2 separate regions of the Homo sapiens genome follow, and region 2 is linked to region 1. Evidence: fine-mapped expression QTL. A gene starts in region 1. The other region holds a variant in brackets. All regions are shown on one strand. Distances are from middle to middle.

Region 1 (9,331 bases):
AGGTGGGAAGATCGCTTAAGCCCAGGAGTTCCAGGCTGTAGCGAGCTATGATCCTGCCACTGGCTGACAGAGTGAGACACTGTGTCAAAATAATAATAATAGTAATAATAATAATAGGCCGGGTGTGGTGGCTCACACCCGTAATACCAGCAGTTTGGGAAGCCAAGGCAGGCAGATAACCTGAGGTCAGGAGTTCGAGACCAGCCTGACCAATATGATGAAACCCCGTCTCTACTAAAAATACAAAAATTAGCTGGGCATGGTGGCATATGCCTGTAATCCCAGCAACTCGGGAGGCTGAGGCAGGAGAACCGCTTGAACCCGGGAGACGGAGGTTGCAGTGGGCTGAGATTGTGCCACTGCACTCTAGCCTGGGTAACAAGAGCAAAATTCCGTTTCAAAATAATAATAGTAATAATAATAATAATAATAGTTTAAAAACTGCAGCATCAGCAACTCTATGCCAGGTGCCATTCTTTTTTTTTTTTTTGAGATGGAGTCTTGCTCTGTTGCCTAGGCTGGAGTGCAGTGGCACGATCTCGGCTCATTGCAACCTCTGCCTCCCAGGTTCAAGCAATTCTCCTGCCTCAGCCTCCTGAGTAACCGGGATTACAGGAACATGCCACAATGCCCAGCTAATTTTTTTGTATTTTTAGTAGAGACGGGGTTTCACCATGTTGACTAGGCTGGTCTTGATCCTCCCACCTCAGCCTCCCAAAGTGTGCTGGGATTACAGGTGTGAGCCACCACGCCCAGCGATGCCAGGTGGCATTCTAAGCTCTGTACATGTATTGGCACATCTAACCATCAAAATAGCCCCATGAGGGTGGGACTGTTATGATCCTCATTTTAGAGATGAGGAAAACGAGGTTCAGAGAGATTGAGACACCTGCCCTAGGTCACAGAGCCAGGAAGTGACGCCACTCAGGCTATGCTTGCTCTGTTGTCTCACCTGTTCATCACCACCTGACGCGTAATCCAGGACTGTCCCCTCTCAGTCTCTCCCGCCCTTAAAATGTGTGCTGCCAGAGAACAGGATGCTTACTATCTCATTTAGAGCTGTGTGTCCCCAAGGACTAGACTAGTGGCTGAGGGTAGTGGGACGTTTATCAGTACTTGTTTTCTTTTCTTGTTGTTTTGTTGAGACCAGGTCTCGCTCTGTCGTCCAGGCTGGAGTGCAATGGTACAATCATACCTTACTGCAGCCTTGGCCTCCCAGCTCAAGCTATCCTCCCACCTCAGCCTGCTGGGTAGCTGGGACTAGAGGTGTGCCCCACCACGTCCACTTAATTTTTGCTTGTTTGTTTTGAGACAGAGTCTCACTCTGTGCCCCAGGCTAAAGTGCAGTGGCACGATCTCGGCTCATTGCAACTTCTGCCTCCTGTGGTTCAAGTGATTCTCCTGCCTCAGCCTCCTGAGTAGCTGGGATTACAGGCATGTGCCACCATGCCTGGCTAATTTGTGTATTTTTAGTGGAGACGGGGTTTTGCCATGTTGGCCAGGCTGGTCTCGAACTCCTAGCCTAAAGCAATATTCCTGCCTCGGCCTCCCAAAGTGTTGGAATTTCGGGCGTGAGTCACCGCGCCCAGCCTATAAGCACTTGTTAACTGGACTTAGAGAGATGGGGAATGCCTAGAATCTTCTGCCCCCTCTTCCCCAGCCCCACCAGGCCGCAAGGAGTCAACTCACTCGTTTTTTGTGCCCTTCTGCCCGCAGAACTCGCCCCGGCTGTCAGTGGGGTAGATCACCTTTCGAGGGTCTCCATGAGTCCAGGCTGTGGAAAGATCCAGGGATACTGAGACACTGCCACTCCTCAGATCCAGCCCTGTTCCCACTCCAGAGGCCATGGCTGCCTCCGCCTACCCTGCAACTCCAAGTCCTGCTCATTCTCTACTCACCTATGATGCCTACAGCCACGTAGCCCACAATGGCCAGGAGCAGGAACACACAGCATATGATATCCGTGCAGCCCCTGGGGAGCAGAGGGGCAGTGTTTGGAGGAGGCTTGGTGCTGTGTGCACCATGGGCCCATCTGCCCTCTGCAAACACCCTCATCCATGTGTTATTTGGACAAATTTTCCTGAGTCGTTTGAATGCCGTACCAAAGGGCACATGCATTTTAATTTTTATTTCATTTCATTTTTTAATTTTGTGCAACAGAGTCTCACTCCGTCATCCAGGCTGGAGTACAGTGGCATGATCATAGCTCACTACAGCCTCGAACTCCTGGGCTCAAGTGATCCTCCTGCCTCAGCTTCCCAAGTAGTTGAGACTACAGGTGCACACCACCACACATTTTTTTTTTAATTTATATACATTCTGTAGAGACAAGGTCTCGCTATGTTGCCCAAGCTAGACTTTTTTTTTTTTTTTGAGAGGGAATCTCACTCTGTCGCCCAGGCTGGAGTGCAGTGGAACGATCTCAGCTTACTGCAACCTCTACCTCCCAGGTTCAAGCGATTCTCCTGCCTCAGTCTCCCAAGTAGCTGGGATTATAGGTGCCCGCCACCATGCCCAGCTAATTCTTGTATTTTTAGTAGAGACAGGGTTTCACCATGTTAGCCAGGCTGGTCTCGAACTCCTAACCTCAAGTGATCCACCTGCCTTGGCCTCCCAAAGTGCTGGGATTATAGGTGTGAGCCACCGTGCCTGGCTGTATTTTATTTTTTTGTTATTTTTTTTTGAGACAGAGTCTCGCTCTTGTCCTCCAGGCTGGAGTGCAGTGGCGCAATCTCAGCTTACTGCAACCTCCACCTCCCAGATTCAAGCAATTCTCCTGCCTCAGCCTTCTGAGTAGCCTCTGAGTAGTCACAGCTACTGGAGAGGCTGAGACAGAAGACGTGCTTGAACCAGGAGGGGAAGGTTGCAGTGAGCTGAGATTGCACCACTCCAGCCTGGGTGACAGAGTGAGACTCCATCTCAAAAATAAATAAATAAATAAATAAATATAAACATGGTAAAAATTAAGTCCAGGCCAGGTGTGGTAACTCACACCTGTAATCCCAGCACTTTGGGAGGCCAAGGCAGGTGGATCGCTTTGAGCTCACGAGGTCGAGACCAGCATGGGCAACACAGCGAAACATCTCTGCTAAAAGTACAAAAAAAAAAAAAAATTAGCCAGGTGTGGTGGTGCAAGCCTGTAATCCCAGCTACTTGGGAGACTGAGGTGGGAGAATTGCTCGAACCCGGGAGGCGAAGGTTGCAGTGAGCCGAGATTGAGATCGCGCCACGGCACTCCAGCCTGGTGACAGAGCAAGACTCCATCTCAAAAAAAAAAAAAAGTTTCAAATATTTGTCACCAGTTTGTTGGAGAACAGATGGGAGGGGGTGTGAAGAGACAGGGATTGGGGTAGTATTAGCGGGGAGAACCCCCCAAAACCCAGAGCTCTTACCTATTGTAAATGGGTCCTTTGAAAGTGGGATCATACTTCTGTGGCGTTCCTGAAAGTCAAGAAGATTAAGATGGATGGGATTGGAGACCTGAACCAAGACAGGGCTGGGAGAGCCCCCTCCCAAAAGCCCCTAGGGGTGTCTTTGCCTTGGCAAGAATAAAATTCAGAGACCTGTGGAATTTTCTGCCTCACCCACCTCCAGGTGACCACACCCAAGCCCCCAGTTCTGGCAGGCCAGGACAGGGGAGGAAGGAGGGATCACTAACTGTGAACAAACTTATTAACTGGCGGCCACCCACTGGGAAGAGGGCTGAAATGGTGACCACCACGGAACCAGGTGGAGATGGGGAAGATCTGAGGTGGGATAGGGGGAAGGAGGCGCCGGCAGCAGTGCCAGGCAGAGGGGTACAGGGGCAGGTCCTTCGGGTAGGGGAGAGTAAGGAGGGTCGTCTGCGAGGCTGCGGGGGATAAGTGGGGTGAAGGGGCCTGGCTGATGGTGGGGAGGCTCCAGGCGCAGATTTGCAATTGCGCTCCCCCTCCAGCCCCCTTCCCTGCGCCCCATGTTCTCTCAAGGCCCCCTCCGAGGGACCGAGGGGTCGGCCCGGGGCTACGGGCGGGGGTCGCTGCCTACCGTGTTTCCCGTAGTAGTGGGGCCGCTCGTCCCCCATCCCTGCAGGCGACCAGCCCCGGCGGCCGCCCGCGCTCTCTCCCGCGCCCCCTCGACCCTCCCGAGTCTGGAGGGAGGCACTGACCGCGCGACTGGCGGCGGCTCCTCCCAGCACAGCGCCAGGCGGGGCGGCCCAAACCGGTCAGACCGGCCCGAGCTGGGCAGCTGCCCAGACTAAGGGACCCGGGAGGGCGCGGGCGGGGCTGCAGCTGCTCCCGCCACTCACCGGCCGGCCGCATTTAGCCTTCCCCGCCCCCACCCGGGAACCCTGCGGCTTCACCCTGGGAACACCCTGCCACCGGGCGATGCCGCCTAGAACCCCTGGCCACCCTGAAAGGGCGTTTCCGTGGCTTCGTTTTGCAGGTGTGGAAACTGAGGCACTGGGAGGGAAAACGGCCTACTGCCCAAACCCAGACAACCAACTGTGGAATGTTGGTGCTGAAAACTTCTCCAAGCTGTGCAGGAAATTAGTTTTCTTTCTGTCTGCTGCTTTTTTTTTTTGAGACAGGATCTCCCTCTGTTGCCCAGGCTGGAGTGCAGTGGTGCAATCACAGCTCATCGCAGTCTCGACCTCCCTGCCTCAAGCCATCCTCCTGACTAAGCCTCCTGAGTAGCTGGGACTACAGGTGCTCTACTGCACTCGGCTAATTTTTAATTTTTTTTGTAGAGATGGGATGTTGCTATGTTGCCCAGGCTCATCTTTAACTCCTGGACTCGTGGGCTCCTCCCACCGTGGCCCCCCAAAGTGCTGGGATTACCTGCGTGCACTACTGGGCCTGGTCTTAGAACAAGTATTTATTCAGCCCTTAGTGGGTGCAGGCCTTGGGCGGGGCACCGCATACAGTGAGGAACCAGAGAGACCCAATCTCCACCCTTGTGGAGCCCACATCCTCCTGGGTCGCCCTGAATTCAAATGCTCCTTCTGCACCCTCTGAACTAGAGGATACTTAACAAAGGGCTTATCTTCCTTAAGCCTCAGTTTCCTCAACTGCAAAATGAGGCTAAAGTATGAAACCAAAACTGACCTCAAAGAGCAGGCATAGGCCAGGTGCAGTGGCTCATGCCTGTAATCCCAGCACTCTGGGAGGCTGAGGCAGGTCGATCAGGATTTCTAAGCCAGCCTGGCCAACATGGTGAAACCCCTTCTCTACTAAAAATACAAACATTAGCCAGTGTGGTGGCACATGCCTGTAATCCCAGCTACTTGGGAAGCTGAGGCAGGAGAATCGCTTAAACCCAGGAGGTGGAGGTTGCAGTGAGCCAAGATTGCCTCACTGCACTCCAACCTGGGGGACAGAGTGAGACTCTGTCTCCAAAAAGAAAAAGAAAAAAGAAAATAGGCTGGGTGTGGTGGCTAACACCTATAATCCCAGCACTTTGGGAGGCCGAGGTGGGCGGATCATGAGGTCAAGAGATCGAGACCATCCTGGCCAACTTGGTGAAACCCCGTCTGTACTAAAAATACAAAAATTAGCTGGATGTTGTGGTGTGCACCTGTAGTCCCAGCTACTTGGGAGGCTGAGGCAGGAGAATCACTTCAACCCGAGAGGCGGAGGTTGCAATGAGCCGAGATCGTGCCACTGCACTCCAGCCTGGGTGACAGAGCGAGTGTCTCAAAAAATCAATCAATCAATAAATCAAAAATTAGCCGGGTGTGGTGGTTCATGCCTGTAATCCCAGCACTGTGGGAGGCCGAGGCGGGCAGATCACTGAGGTCAGGAGTTCAAGACCAGCCTGGCCAACAAGGCAAAACCCTGTCTGTACTAAAAATACAAAAATTAGCCAGGTGTGGTGGTGGGCACCTGTAATCCCAGCTACTGGGGAGGCTGAAGTAGGAGAATCGTTTGAACCTGGGAGGTAGAGGTTGCAGTGAGCCGAGATTATGCCACTGTACTCCAGCCTGGGCGACAGAGCGAGACTCCGCCTCAAAAAAAAAAAAAAATACAATACAATAAAAATAGAGACAGGATCTCACTGTGTTACCCAGGCTGGGCTCAAACTCCTGGCCTTAAGCAATCCTCCCACCTCAACCTCCCAAAGTGCTGGGATTGCAGGCACGAGTCACCACGCCACAACCTGCCTCTACTTGAATATTTATAGATATTTATAGTGCAGCCAATTATTTGGTTAACATGGCATTATACAGGTGGTGTGGAGGTATCCTCAGCAGGAATATACATTTAGTGCTGGGTGTACACAGACAGCATGAGGTTATACAGTCAGCGTGATCATATACATTTGGTGTCCAATAATTGTAGCTGCTGCCTTAGACTCTAGGACTCGCAGGCAGGGCTCTGGTCACTAACTCAACTTATCCTTAAAAAGGCGCCCTCTCCTCCTAGTAGCCACCAGCAGAGGGGCCCTGTCTAAACACCTGGACCACAGGCAAGGCCTGAGGCGCCAGGTCATGCCCTGGGGTGACCCAGACTCCTAAAGAAGCCCTGTGGTTCTCGAAGTCTCTGCCAGCCCAAAGGCTGGCTGGTCCCACCCTACCCATTCCAAGCAGTGGACAAAGAGAGCGAGCCACAGGCCTCTTCTCTTCCCAACTACACAGGGTGCCCTGGGGACAATTTATTCAGGCCCCACCCACCAGCTCCACACTGAGGAGTCCCAAAAGTTAAGCCCTCTGGAAACCCTTGTCTCTGAGCTGCACACCTATGTGACATCTGTCTCCCCCCAACACACGTGAGCATCTCATACTCAGTGCGGCGGCATCTAAGCTTTTTTGTTTTTGAGACAGGGTCTCACTCTGTCGCCCAGGCTGGAATGCAGTGGCATAATCACAGCTCACTGTAGCTTTGACCTCCTGGGCTCAGGCGATCCTCCCACCTCAGCCTCCTGAGTAGCTGGGATCACAGGCACGCGCCACCACACTCAGGTAATTTTTTGTATTTTTAGTAGAGACAGGGTCTCGCAATGTTGCCCAGGCTGGTCTGGAACTCCTGGCCTCAGGGATCCTCCCACCTCAGCCTCCCAAAGTGCTGTAATTATAGGTGTGAGCCACCGTGCCTGGCCTGTCCAAGCTTCTGATTATCCCATGACTCCGCTCCATCCTCCCACGTGCTCTGGCCAGGAACCTGGGCTGCCTCTCTGCTTGAGATCAGTTTTGCCTTCAGAGCTATCCAGAATCCAACCTCTTCTCACCTGCTCCTCAAGCACCCACCCTTTCACACAGCCCTGTCATCTCCTGCCTGGACCAACACAGACACTTTCTATCCTCACTATAGCGGCCAGAGACATCTGTGCACACCTAAGTCAGGACACATCCCTGCTCTGCTCAGAAACCTCCATGGTTCCCACCTCATTCCGAGGAAAAAGCCCAGCTCTTCGCCACAGCCCACAAAGCCTTGCATGACCTGCCCTGTCACCTCCCTGCCCTCACCTCCTCCCTCTCTCTCTCCATGGCTTACTCTGTTCAGCCTCACTGGCCTCCTGGGTACGTCCCACGCTCAGCAGGCATGGTCTGACCTCAGGGCCTTTGCACTAGCTGCTCGGTCCCTCTGCTTAGAATGCTCTTCTCTCAGACATCCATACAGCTCCGTTGCCTTCAGGCCTTGCCTGAAATATCACCTTGGCAAGGCGTGGTGGCTCAAGCCTGTCATCTTAGCACTTGGGGAGGCTGAGACAGGCAGATCACTGGAGGCCAGTAGTTCGAGACCAGCCTGGGCAACACTGTGAAACCCCATCTCTACTAAAAGTACAAAAATTAGCCAGGTGAGGCCAGGCGCAGTGGCTCACGCCTATAATCCCAGCACTTTGGGAGGCCAAGGTGGGCAGATCACCTGAGGTCGGGAGTTCCAGACCAGCCTGACCAACATGGAGAAACCCTGTTTCTATTACTACAAAAATTAGCCGGGGCGAGGTGGTGCATGCCTGTAGTCCCAGCTACTTGGGAGGCTGAGGCACGAGAATCGCTTGAACCTGGGAAGCGGAGGTTGCAGCAAGCTGAGATCATGCCATTGCACTCCAGTCTGGGCAACAAGAGTGAAACTCCGTCTCAAAAATAAATAAATTAAATTAAAAATTAGCCAGGTGTGGTGACACATACCTGTAGTCCCAGCAACTTGGGAGGTGGAGGTGGGAGGATCACCTGAGACCAAGAGGTCGAGGCTGCAATGAGCCAAGATCCTGGCACTGTACTCCAGCCTGGGTGACAGAGCAAGACTCCATCTAAAAGAAAACCCACAAAAACCAAAAAAAAAAAAAAAAAAACACCCAACCATCCCTTTCCTCTCTGTCCTATGACCTTTTCTTTTCTTTCTTTCATTTTTTTTTTCTTTTTTGAGGCAGAGTCTCGCTCTGTCGCCCAGGCTGGAGTGCAGTGGTGCCATCTAGGCTCACTGCAACCTCCACCTCCCGGGTTCAAGTAGTTCTCCTGCCTCAGGCTCCCAAGTAGCTGGGACTACAGGCACACACCAACGTGCCTGGCTGATTTTTGTATTTTTAGTAGCAGAGACTGGCTTTTACCATGTCTCTACTACTGGTCTCGAACTCCTGACCTCAAGTGATCTGCCCACCTTGGCCTCCCAAAGTGCTGGGATTATAGGCATGAGCCACTATACCTGACCCCTATGACTTTCTCTTTGTTGTTATTATCAAATAGAGTCTTGCTTTGTCACTCAGCCTGGAATGCAGTGGAGCAATCATAGCTCACTGCAGCCTAAACCTCCTAGGCTCAAATGATCTTCTCGCCTCAGCCTCCCAAGTAGCTGTGACTATAGGCACACACCACCATGCCTGCCTAATTTTAAAATTTTTTGTAGACCAGTGTCTCGCTATGTTGCCCAAGGCTGGTCTCAAACTCCTGTGCTCAATGGGCTCAAGCCTTCCTCCCACCTCGGCCTCCCAAAACCCTGGGATTACAGATGTGATACATTTTGCTTCTTATCACCATCTGACATGTTAGACATTTGCTTATTGGTTGTTAATTATCTGCCCTCTTGCCTATTGCCTGCATAAGGACAGGGATTTGTGTGTCTTTCATTCCGGCTGCGTCCCCAGTATACAGCATAGCCCCTGGCATAAAACAAACATTTAATAAGTATTTGTTGAATGAATAGCCACAATATATAATACATGTATGTAGAGTGAACACTGAAAATAAAAACGAGCTTAGAATTTTCTAAGGGTACATATTTTAAAAATTAATTTGCGTTTTTTGTTTGTTTGTTTGTTTTTTGGAGATGGAGTCTTGCTCTGTTGCCCGATCTTGGCTCACTGCAACATCCAGGTTCAAGTGATTCTTCTGCCTCAGCACCCCCGGGTAACTGGA
Region 2 (9,331 bases), 28 kb after region 1:
GGAGAATGGCGTGAACCCGGGAGGCGGAGCTTGCAGTGAGCCGAGACCGTGTCACTGCACTCCAGCCTGGGCGACAGAGCGACACTCCGTCTCCGTCTCAAAAAATAAAATAAAATAAAATAAAATAAAAATAATAATAGAAGATGGATAGATAAATAATTGATAGGTAAATATTGATCACCGTGTACCACTGAACATACCAAAAGATGCCATTTTCATTCATCAGATTGGTAAGAATTTTAGAGTTTAATAACATAAAATCAGGTGAGTGAATACTTTGAAGCAGAATGTTTCCTGGCAGAAAGAGTATATCCAAGTCATGTTCACCTGGTGCGATTCCTGTCTGGCACTGACCCTGGACAAACCACTGCAGGTGTGTGTGCATGGGATGTAGTAACCAAGGGGTGTTCCCTGCAGCCTTGACAGTTATTGTGGAAAAAATGGGTGAAAACAGGCCGGGTGCGGAGGCTCACGCCTGTAATCCCAGCACTTTGGGAGGCCGAGGCGGGCGGATCACTTGAAGTCGGGAGTTCGAGACCAGCCTGACCAACATGGAGAATCCCTGTCTTTACTAAAAATACAAAAAATTAGCCTGGTGTGGTGGCACATGCCTGTAATCCCAGCTACTCTGGAGGCTGAGGAGGAGAATCGCTTGAACCCAGGAGGTGGAGGTTGCGGTGAGCTGAGATGACGCTATTGCACTCCAAACTGGGCAACAGAACTGGGCAAAAAGCGAAACTCTGTCTCAAAAAGAAAAAAAAAAAGAAAGAAAAATGGGTGAAAACATCACTGCACTCCAGCCTGGGTGACAGAGTGAGACCCTGTCTCAAAAAAAAAAAAAAAAAGAAAGAAAGAAAGAAAAAAGAATAAAGCACGAAGTCATCAGGGAAATGTAAATCAAAACCTCGATGAGATATCATTGCACACCCACCTGAATAGCTAAAATTAAAAAGACTGGTCGAACCAAGTGTTGAGGAAGATGGGAAGCATATGGGGGCTCTCCTACACTGTTGGTGAGAATGTAAAATGCCACAACCAGTTGGAAAACGATCTGGCAGTTTCTTGCAAAGTTAATACCCTAGAAATTGCACTTCTAGGTATATACCCAAGAAAAAGTATAAGTGAAGAAAAGAAAAACCCACAGACACATTCATATAAATGTTCATGATAGCCTTATAGTATCCTTATTCGTAGTGGGCAAAAAAACTAGGAGCAGCCCAAATGCCCATTAACAGATCATTGGTGAAGCAAACCATGGTGGGTTTCACCCATACCATGGGATTCTCCTTAGTGATGAGGAATGAATGTTTTCTTCTTTCTTTTTTTAGGGACAGGATCTTGCTGTATTGCCCAGGCTGGATTGCGATGGTGCAGTCATAGCTGACTGAAGCCCTGACCTCCTCAGCTCAAGTGATCCTCCTGCCTCAGCCTCCCGTTGCTGGGACTACAGGCACACACTATCATGCCTGGCTAATTTCTTTCTTTCTTTCTTTTTTTGACAAAGTTTCACTCTTGTTGCTCAGGCTGGAGTGCAATGGTGCAATGGTGTGATCTCAGCTCACCGCAACCTCCGTCTCCCAAGTTCAAGTGATTCTCCTGCCTTAGTCTCTGAGTAGCCGGGATTACAGGCATGCACCACCACGCCTGGCTAATTTTGTATTTTTAGTAGAGACGGGGTTTCTCTATGTTGGTCGGGCTGGTCTGGAACTCCCGACCTCAGGTGATCCGCCCCCCTCAGCCTCCAAAAGTGCTGGGATTATAGGCATGAGCCACCGCACCTGGACATACTCGGCTAATTTTTTAAATTTTTGTGGAGATGAGGGTCTCCCTATGGGTGCCCAGGCTGGTCTCAAGTGATCCTTCTGCCTCAGCCTCCTAGAGTGCTGAGATTACAGGTGTGAGCCACAGCGCCTGGTCCAGGAATAAACTATTGATACAGGCAAAAATATGGATGAATCTCTCCCCAAAAAGCATAATGTTGTGTGAAAGAAACCACACACTTTTTTCTGAAGTTCAAGAACAGGCATAGCTAATCAACCTATAGTAACAGAACATATATCAGTGGTTGACTTTTGGGGTAGTAATAACTACTGGGATGATAGGAGCAGCTTCTGGGCACTGGAAACAGAATTGTAGTTACATAGCTTAGTTTAGTTTGTGAATACTTGACCTTCTCCCCCGTACTCTGCCTGCCTTTTTTTTCTGAGACAGAATCTTGCTCTGTTGCCCAAGCTGGAGTACAGTGGCAATTTTTGTATTTTAGTAGAGACGGGGTTTCGCCATGTTGCCCAGGCTGGTCTCGAACTCCTGATCTCAGGTGATCCACCAACCTCAGCCTCCCAAAGTGCAGGGATTACAGGTGTAAGCCGCTGTGCCCAACCGACTTCTGCCCTTTTAAAATATGTGTTGCTGGCCCGGCACGGTGGCTCACGCCTGTAATCCCAGCACTTTGGGAAGCTGAGTTGAGTGGATCACAAGGTCAGGAGTTCAAGACCAGCTTGACTAACTTGGTGAAACCTGGTCCCTACTAAAAATACAAAAAAAAAAAAAAATTAGACGGGCGTGGCGGCGGGCGCCTGTAATCCCAGCTCCTCAGGAGGCTGAGGCAGAGAATTGCTTGACCCCGGGAGGCAGAGGTCGCAGTGAGCCAAGATTGCACCACTGCACTCCGGCCTGGGTGAAAGAGTGAGACAGCATCTCAAATAAATAAATAAATAAAATAAAATATGTGTTGCTCTTCCTGGTCAGGTCGCCAGCATCATGCTCTTCTATTCCTTTTTTCAAGTCCCTTGTGGGCATGAATGTGGTCATGGAACTCAAGAAAGACCTGAACATCTGTGGCACCCTCCATTCGGTGGATCAGTATCTCAACATCAAATGAGCTGACATCAGTATCACACACCTTGAGAAATATCCTCACATTTTATCAGTGAAGAACTTCTAGGCTGGGTGCAGTGGCTCACACCTGTAACCCCAGCACTTTGGGAGGCCAAGGCAGGTGGATCACCTGAGGTCAGGAGTTTGAGACCAGCCTGGCCAACATGGCAAAACCCCATCTCTACTAAAATACAAAACTTAGCCGGATGTGGTGGCGGGCGCCTGTATTCACAGCTACTCGGGAAGCTGAGGCAGGAGAGTTGCTGGAACCCGGGAGGTGGAGGCTGCAGTGAGCTGAAATCATGCCACTGCACTCCAGCCTGGGTGACAGAGCGAGACTCTGTCTCAAAAAAAGTTTTTTAAAAAGGACTGTTTCATTCCGGGCTCAGTGGTCCCATACGTGCAGTTGCCAGCAAAGGAGGTCGACACACAGTTGCCATAGCATGCAGCAAGGAAGAAAGCCAGCAGTAGTAAGTGACAGCCCCTCCTTCTCTTCCCTTCCCTCTTCCTTGGTGACCTGTAACTCCAAGTCCCAGCCCAGGACCCCTAACTCCCAATACTTGAAGGGGTTTTGTTTGTTTTTTTACTAATGATGGTTTTGTGGGTTTTTTTTAAAAAAGGGAAGAGTGGATAAGGGGAATAATAGGGAACAGGTATCCTTTGTTGAGAAAGGGAGAAGAGGTAGGCTGGGAAACTCCAAAGCCTTCCCAGTCCCCAGCACCTGCCGTTCTCACTACCTCCCTGGAGATGGTGGGAGGGAGGGCTTCCTAGGTCTTTCCAGGGTACCATGTGATTCACCTGGGGGTTGAAAGGAATCTGTCCCATATTGGGAATAACATTTATGATGCAAATATATATGTGTGTTTGTATACATAATAAATAAAAAAGTTACATTTCAAAATGAGAATTTTTAAAATAGTTTAAGAAAAAAGGTGGTGGTCCTGCAGATTATAATAAGAGTGACTGTTTACAGCCAGGAGTGGTGGCTCACATCTGTGATCCCAGCACTCTGGGAGGCAGGAGGGTCACTTGAGGACAGGAGTTCAAGATTAGCCTGGACAACACGATGAAAATCTGTCTCTAAGGCCAGACGCAGTGGCTCTCACCTGTAATCCCAGCACTTTGGGAGGCCGAGGCGGGCGGATCACCTGAGGTCGGGAGTTCGAGACCAGCCCGACCAACATGGAGAAATCCCGTCTTTACTAAAAATACAAAATTAGCCGAGTGTGGTGGCACATGCATGTAATCCCAGCTACTTGGGAGGCTGAAGCAGGAGAATCACTTGAACCTGGGAGTCAGAGGTTGCAGTGATCCAAGAGTGCACCATTGCACACCAGCCTGGGTGACAGAACGAGACTCGGTCTCAAAAAAAAAAAAAAGGAAAGAAAGAGTGAATGTTTATAGAAAGCTTAGTCAGTGTCAGACAAGGTATTAAATGCTTTATATATTTTTTTAACTCTTTTTCTTTTTTTTGAAATAGAGACCAGGTCTCATTAGCCTCAATCGATCTGCCCATCTTGGCCTCTTGAAGTGCTGGGATTACAAGCATGAGCCACCATGCTGGCCAAGCACCTTTTTTTTTTGAACCAAGGCTGCTGGAGGGCAGTGGCGCGATCTTGGCTCACCCAGTAAAGTGCTCTCTGTGTGTGTATGTGTGTGTGTGTGTGTGTATATAGTTGTTGTTGTTTGTTTTAGTTTTTGAGATGGAGTCTCACTCTGTCGCCAAGCTGGAGTGCAGTGGCGTGATCTCAGCTCACTGCACCATCTGCCTCCCGGGTTCAAGCAATTCTCCTGCCTCAGCCTTCTGAGTAGCTGGGATTACAGCACCCACCACCACGCTCAGCTAGTTTTTTGTATTTTTAGTGAAGAACGGGTTTCACTGTCTTAGCCATGATGGTGTCAATCTCCTGACCTCATGATCCACCGCCTCGGCCTCCCAAAGTGCTGGGATTACAGGCGTGAGACACCGCGTCTGGCCCAAGCACTCTGTATTAAATCATTATAATCATTTTCCAATTGGGGAAAGTGACCCAGAGAGGTGAAGTAATTTACCCACAGTAACATAATGAGCCCGTGGCTCTGCAAGGATCTGAACCCAGGGAGTCCGACTTTACACCCAAGACACA[C/A]TTCCTTCCCCTTCAACCACATGCTTTCCGGAGTAGCGTCCAGGTCATATTGTTGAGTGATAATAGCAAGTTGTATTTTTTTTTTTTTATTTAAGACAGAGTCTCTCTCTGTCGCCCAGGCTGGAGTGCAGTGGTGCGAGCTCAGCTCACTGAAACCTCCTTCTCTTGGGTTCAAGTGATTTGTGTGCCTCAGCCTCTGGAGTAGCTGGGATTTCAGGTACGCACCACCATGCCCAGCTTAGTCTATATACATATATATATATATATATATAGTTGTTGTTGCTTGTTTGTTTTGTTTTGTTTTGTTTTTGAGACAGATTCTTGTTCTGTCACCCAGGCTCGAGTGCAGTGGCATGATCTCGGCTCACTGCAACCTCTGCCTCCTGGGTTCAAGCAATTCTCCTGCCTCAGCCTCCCGAGTAGCTGGGATTACAGGTGTCCGCCAGCATACCTGGCTAATTTTTTGTATTTTTAGTAGAGACAGGATTTTATCATGTTGGCCAGGCTTGTCTCAAACTCCTGACCTCAGGTGATTCACCTGCCTTAGCCTCCAAAGTGCAGGGATTACAGGCGTGAGCCACCACACCTGGCCAGTTTTTATATTTTTAGTAGAGACAGATTTTTTGCCATGTTGCCCAGGCTGCTCTTGAACTCTTGGCCTCAAGTGCCCCACCCGCCTCTGCCTCCCAAAGTTCTGGGATTACAGGTGAGAGCCACTGTGCCCATCCACAAGTTGTATAGTCTTATATGGTATGGGAGAAAGAGAGAGAAAGAGGGCAACACGCGCACACACACACACACACACACACACACACACAAACACACACACACACCCCCCTGCATGTAACCCAGCTGAAAAAGATCTGAATCAGCCAGTGGTTATGAGAGGGACGAAGATTGGGGTATGGGGGTGTCACAGGGGACTTTTTTTTTCTTTTTCTCTCACATCTCTGCTGGGAGGAACTTTTGCCTTTTCTTTAGTTTTGTTTTCTATTTTGTTTTCTCAGGAACTGGCTCAGCACAGTATTTTCTTAAGATAGGTTCTTGCTTTGTCACCGAGGCTGGAGTGCAGTGGTGCAACCATAGCTCACTGCAGCCTCAATCTTCTGGGCTCCAGTGATCCTCCCACCTCAGACTCCTGAGTAGCTGGGCATGGTGGCTTACACTTGTAATCCCAGCACATTGGGAGGCTGAGATGGGTGGATCACTTGAGGTCAGGAGTTTGAGACCAGCCTAGTCAACATGGCGAAACCCAGTCTCTACCAAAAATACAAAAATTAGCCCAGCGTGGTGGCAGATGCCTGTAATCCCAGCTACTTGGGAGGCTGAGGCAGGAGAATCACTTGAACTAGGAGAAGGAGGAGGTTGCAATTAGCTGAGATTGCGCCACTGCACTCCAGCCCCTGGGCGACAAAGTGAGAATCCGTCTCAAAAAAAAAAGAAAAAAAAGCTGGGCGCGGCGGCTCACGCCTATAATCCCAGCACTTTGGGAGGCTGAGGCAGGCACATCTCCAGGTCAGGAGTTCCAGACCAGCTTGGCCAAGAGACCAGCCTGGCCAATATGGCGAAACCCTGCCTCTACTAAAAATACAAAAATTAGCCGGGTGTGGTGGCAGGCACCTGTAGTCCCAGCTACTCGGGAGGCTGAGGCAGGAGAATGGCATGAACCCGGGAGGCAGAGCTTGCAGGGAGCTGAGATCGTGCCACTGCACTCCAGCCTGGGCAACAGAGCGAGACTCTGTCTCAAAAAAAAATAATAATAAAATAATAAAAGTAAATGAATAAATAAAATATAAAAAAATAAAATTAGCTGGGCGTGGTGGGGGGCGCCTGTAATCCCAGCTACTCAGGAGGCTGAGGCAGGAGAACTGCTTGAACCTAGGAGATGGAGGCTGCAGTGAGCCGAGATTGTGCCACTGCACTCAAGCCTCGGTGACGGTGAGACTCCATCTCAAAATAAATAAAAAAAAGAAAAGAAGAAGAAGAAGGAGGAGGAGGAGAAGGAAAAGGAGAAGAAGAAGAAGAAGAAGAGTGGGTGCCAGGGGTTGGGAGAGGGAGAAGGAGTGTTTCATAGGGAGAAGTTTTCCTTTGGGAAGATGAGAAAGTTCTGGAGATGGATGGTGGTGACGGTTGCATGGCCATTAATGTGCTTAATGCCACCGAACTGTGCACTTCAAAATGGCTAAGGTGGCCAGCTGTGGTGGCACGTGTCTATAGTCTCAGCTACTTGGGAGGCTGAGGTGGGAGGATGGCTTGAGACAGCAGGAGAGGAACTGAAATTCGGGCAGTTAGGGTGTCTGGGACAGCAGGTTCAGGTGGTGTCCTGTGGCAGAGGTCAGCAGGTGTCTGACTGTGCCAGGTGGGGGTGGTTGGAGGGCAATGGGGGGCCATAGAGGATGTGAGAGTGAGAGTCAAAAAATAATTGTGAGTTTCAGAGAGATCTCTTTAGTGGTGTGGAGAAGGGATTGTGGACAGGGCCTAGAGGCGTGGTCCCTGGGAGAGGCTGGAGGAGGCTCCAGGCATCCAGAAGGAACTAGGACAAGGCCACAGCCTCAGGGGGATGGGGGAGGCCGCCACTGAGGTGGGGCAGGCGGGGCAGGCAGAGCCAGCACACAGAGCTGCTCTGTTCTCTGACCCCAAGTAAGCTTTTGGGCTCATGAATTTTTCATGCCAAACAAGCCTGGAGTTTCAGATTCCAGGGCACTGGGCCCAGGCTTTCGGGTTCTGCTTACTGCCTGAAAACATCTCAGGGCCCCAGGAGATGAGTTCTTCATTTTGTTGTTGTTGTTGTTTTTGAGACAGAGTCTCACTCTATTGCCCCAGGCTGGAGTGCAATGGCGCAATCTTGGCTCACTGCAACCTCTGCCTCCCAGTTTCAAGTGATTCTCCTGCCTCAGTCTCCTGAGTAGGTGGGATTACAGGCATGTGCTACCACCCCCGGCTAATTCTGTATTTTTAGTCCAGACAGGGTTTCACCATTTTGGCCAGGCTGGTCTCAAACTCCTGACCTCAGGTGATCCACCCACCTCAGCCTCCCGAAGTGCTAGGATTACAGGCGTGAGCCACCACGCCCGGCTGCCAGGAGACGAGTTATTTTGAGGTTCAGCAATGTCTAGGCTGGGGTGAGGGCCTAGCAGTGACTGCATCCCCCTAGGTGACCTTCTCAGCAGGCAGTTGCTGGGAGCATGAAGGACCACCCCCCTCCTTTGGGCAGAAGCAACATAAAGTCTTGGGCTTTAGGCTGGGCGAGATGGCTCACGCCTATAATCCCAGCACTGTGGGAGGCCGAGGCGGGTGGACCACTTAAGTCCACAAGTTGGAGACCAGCCTGGGCGACATTGTGAAACCTGTCTGTACCAAAAAGTATAAAAATTAGCTGGATGTGGTGGTCACGCACCTGTGGTCCCAGCTGTGCAGGAGGCTGGGGTGGGAGAATTGCTTGATTGCTTGAACCTGGGGAGGTGGAGGTTGCAGTGAGCTGAGATCACACCACTGCACTCCAGCCTGGGTGACAGAGACCCTGCCTCAAAAATAATAATAATAATAATAATAATAATCAGGGCCAGGTGCGATGGCTCACCCCTGTAATCCCAGCACTTTGGGAGGCTGAGGTGGGTGGATCACCTGAGGTCGGGAGTTTGAGACCAGCCTGACCAACATGGAGAAACCTTGTCTGTACTAAAAATACAAAATTAGCCAGGCATGGTGGTGCATGCCTGTAATCCCAGCTACTTGGGAGGCTGAGGCAGGAGAATCACTTGAACCTGGGAGGCGGAGGGTATGGTGAGCCAAGGTTGCACCATTGCCCTCCAGCCTGGGCAACAAGAGTGAAATTCCATCTCAAAAAACAAAAAAGTCCGGGTGCAGTGGCTCAAACCTGTAATCCCAGCACTTTGGGAGGCCAACGTGCAATGCGGGCGGATCACAAGGTCAGGAGTTTGAGACCGTCCTGGCCAAAATGGCGAACCCCCATCTCTACTAAAAATACAAAAATTAGCCAGGCATAGTGGCACAAACCTGTGGTCCCAGCTACTTGGGAAGCTGAGACAGAAGAATCACTCGAACCCGTGAGGCGGAGGTTGCAGTGAGTCAAGATCACACCACTCCACTCCAGCCTGGGCGACAGAGCGAGACTCTGTCTCAAAACAAAAAACAAAACAAAACAAAAAAACCTTGTGCTTTCCAGAGCTCAAATCCCAGCTCTGCTTCTTCTGACTGGATGACATTGTACAAATCACTTACTCTCTCAAGGCCTCAGTTTCCCTATCTGTCAAATGAAGATAATAGAGTTGGGGGAGGTGACTCGTGTCTGTAATCTCAGTGTTTTG

What was found.
Region 2: its variant is fine-mapped to the expression of SLC44A2 in blood mononuclear cells (TOPMed, PIP above 0.99). The same link has a PIP of 0.9 or more in whole blood.

Annotation. Positions count from the first base shown.
Region 1 is chr19:10,620,363-10,629,693 of GRCh38, reverse strand. SLC44A2 (solute carrier family 44 member 2 (CTL2 blood group)) reads right to left here and starts at 4,141. Exons shown (of 22, transcript NM_020428.4): 1 at 4,024-4,141; 2 at 3,393-3,441; 3 at 1,899-1,972; 4 at 1,690-1,774. The coding sequence starts at 4,060. RefSeq lists an enhancer at 5,102-5,683.
Region 2 is chr19:10,592,397-10,601,727 of GRCh38, reverse strand. It overlaps the pseudogene LSM2P1. Among named protein-coding and RNA genes, the nearest start is that of AP1M2, 9.8 kb to the right of the region's middle. RefSeq lists enhancers at 5,896-6,085, 7,560-8,084, 8,611-9,135. The variant C/A (reference allele first, on the strand shown) is at 5,004.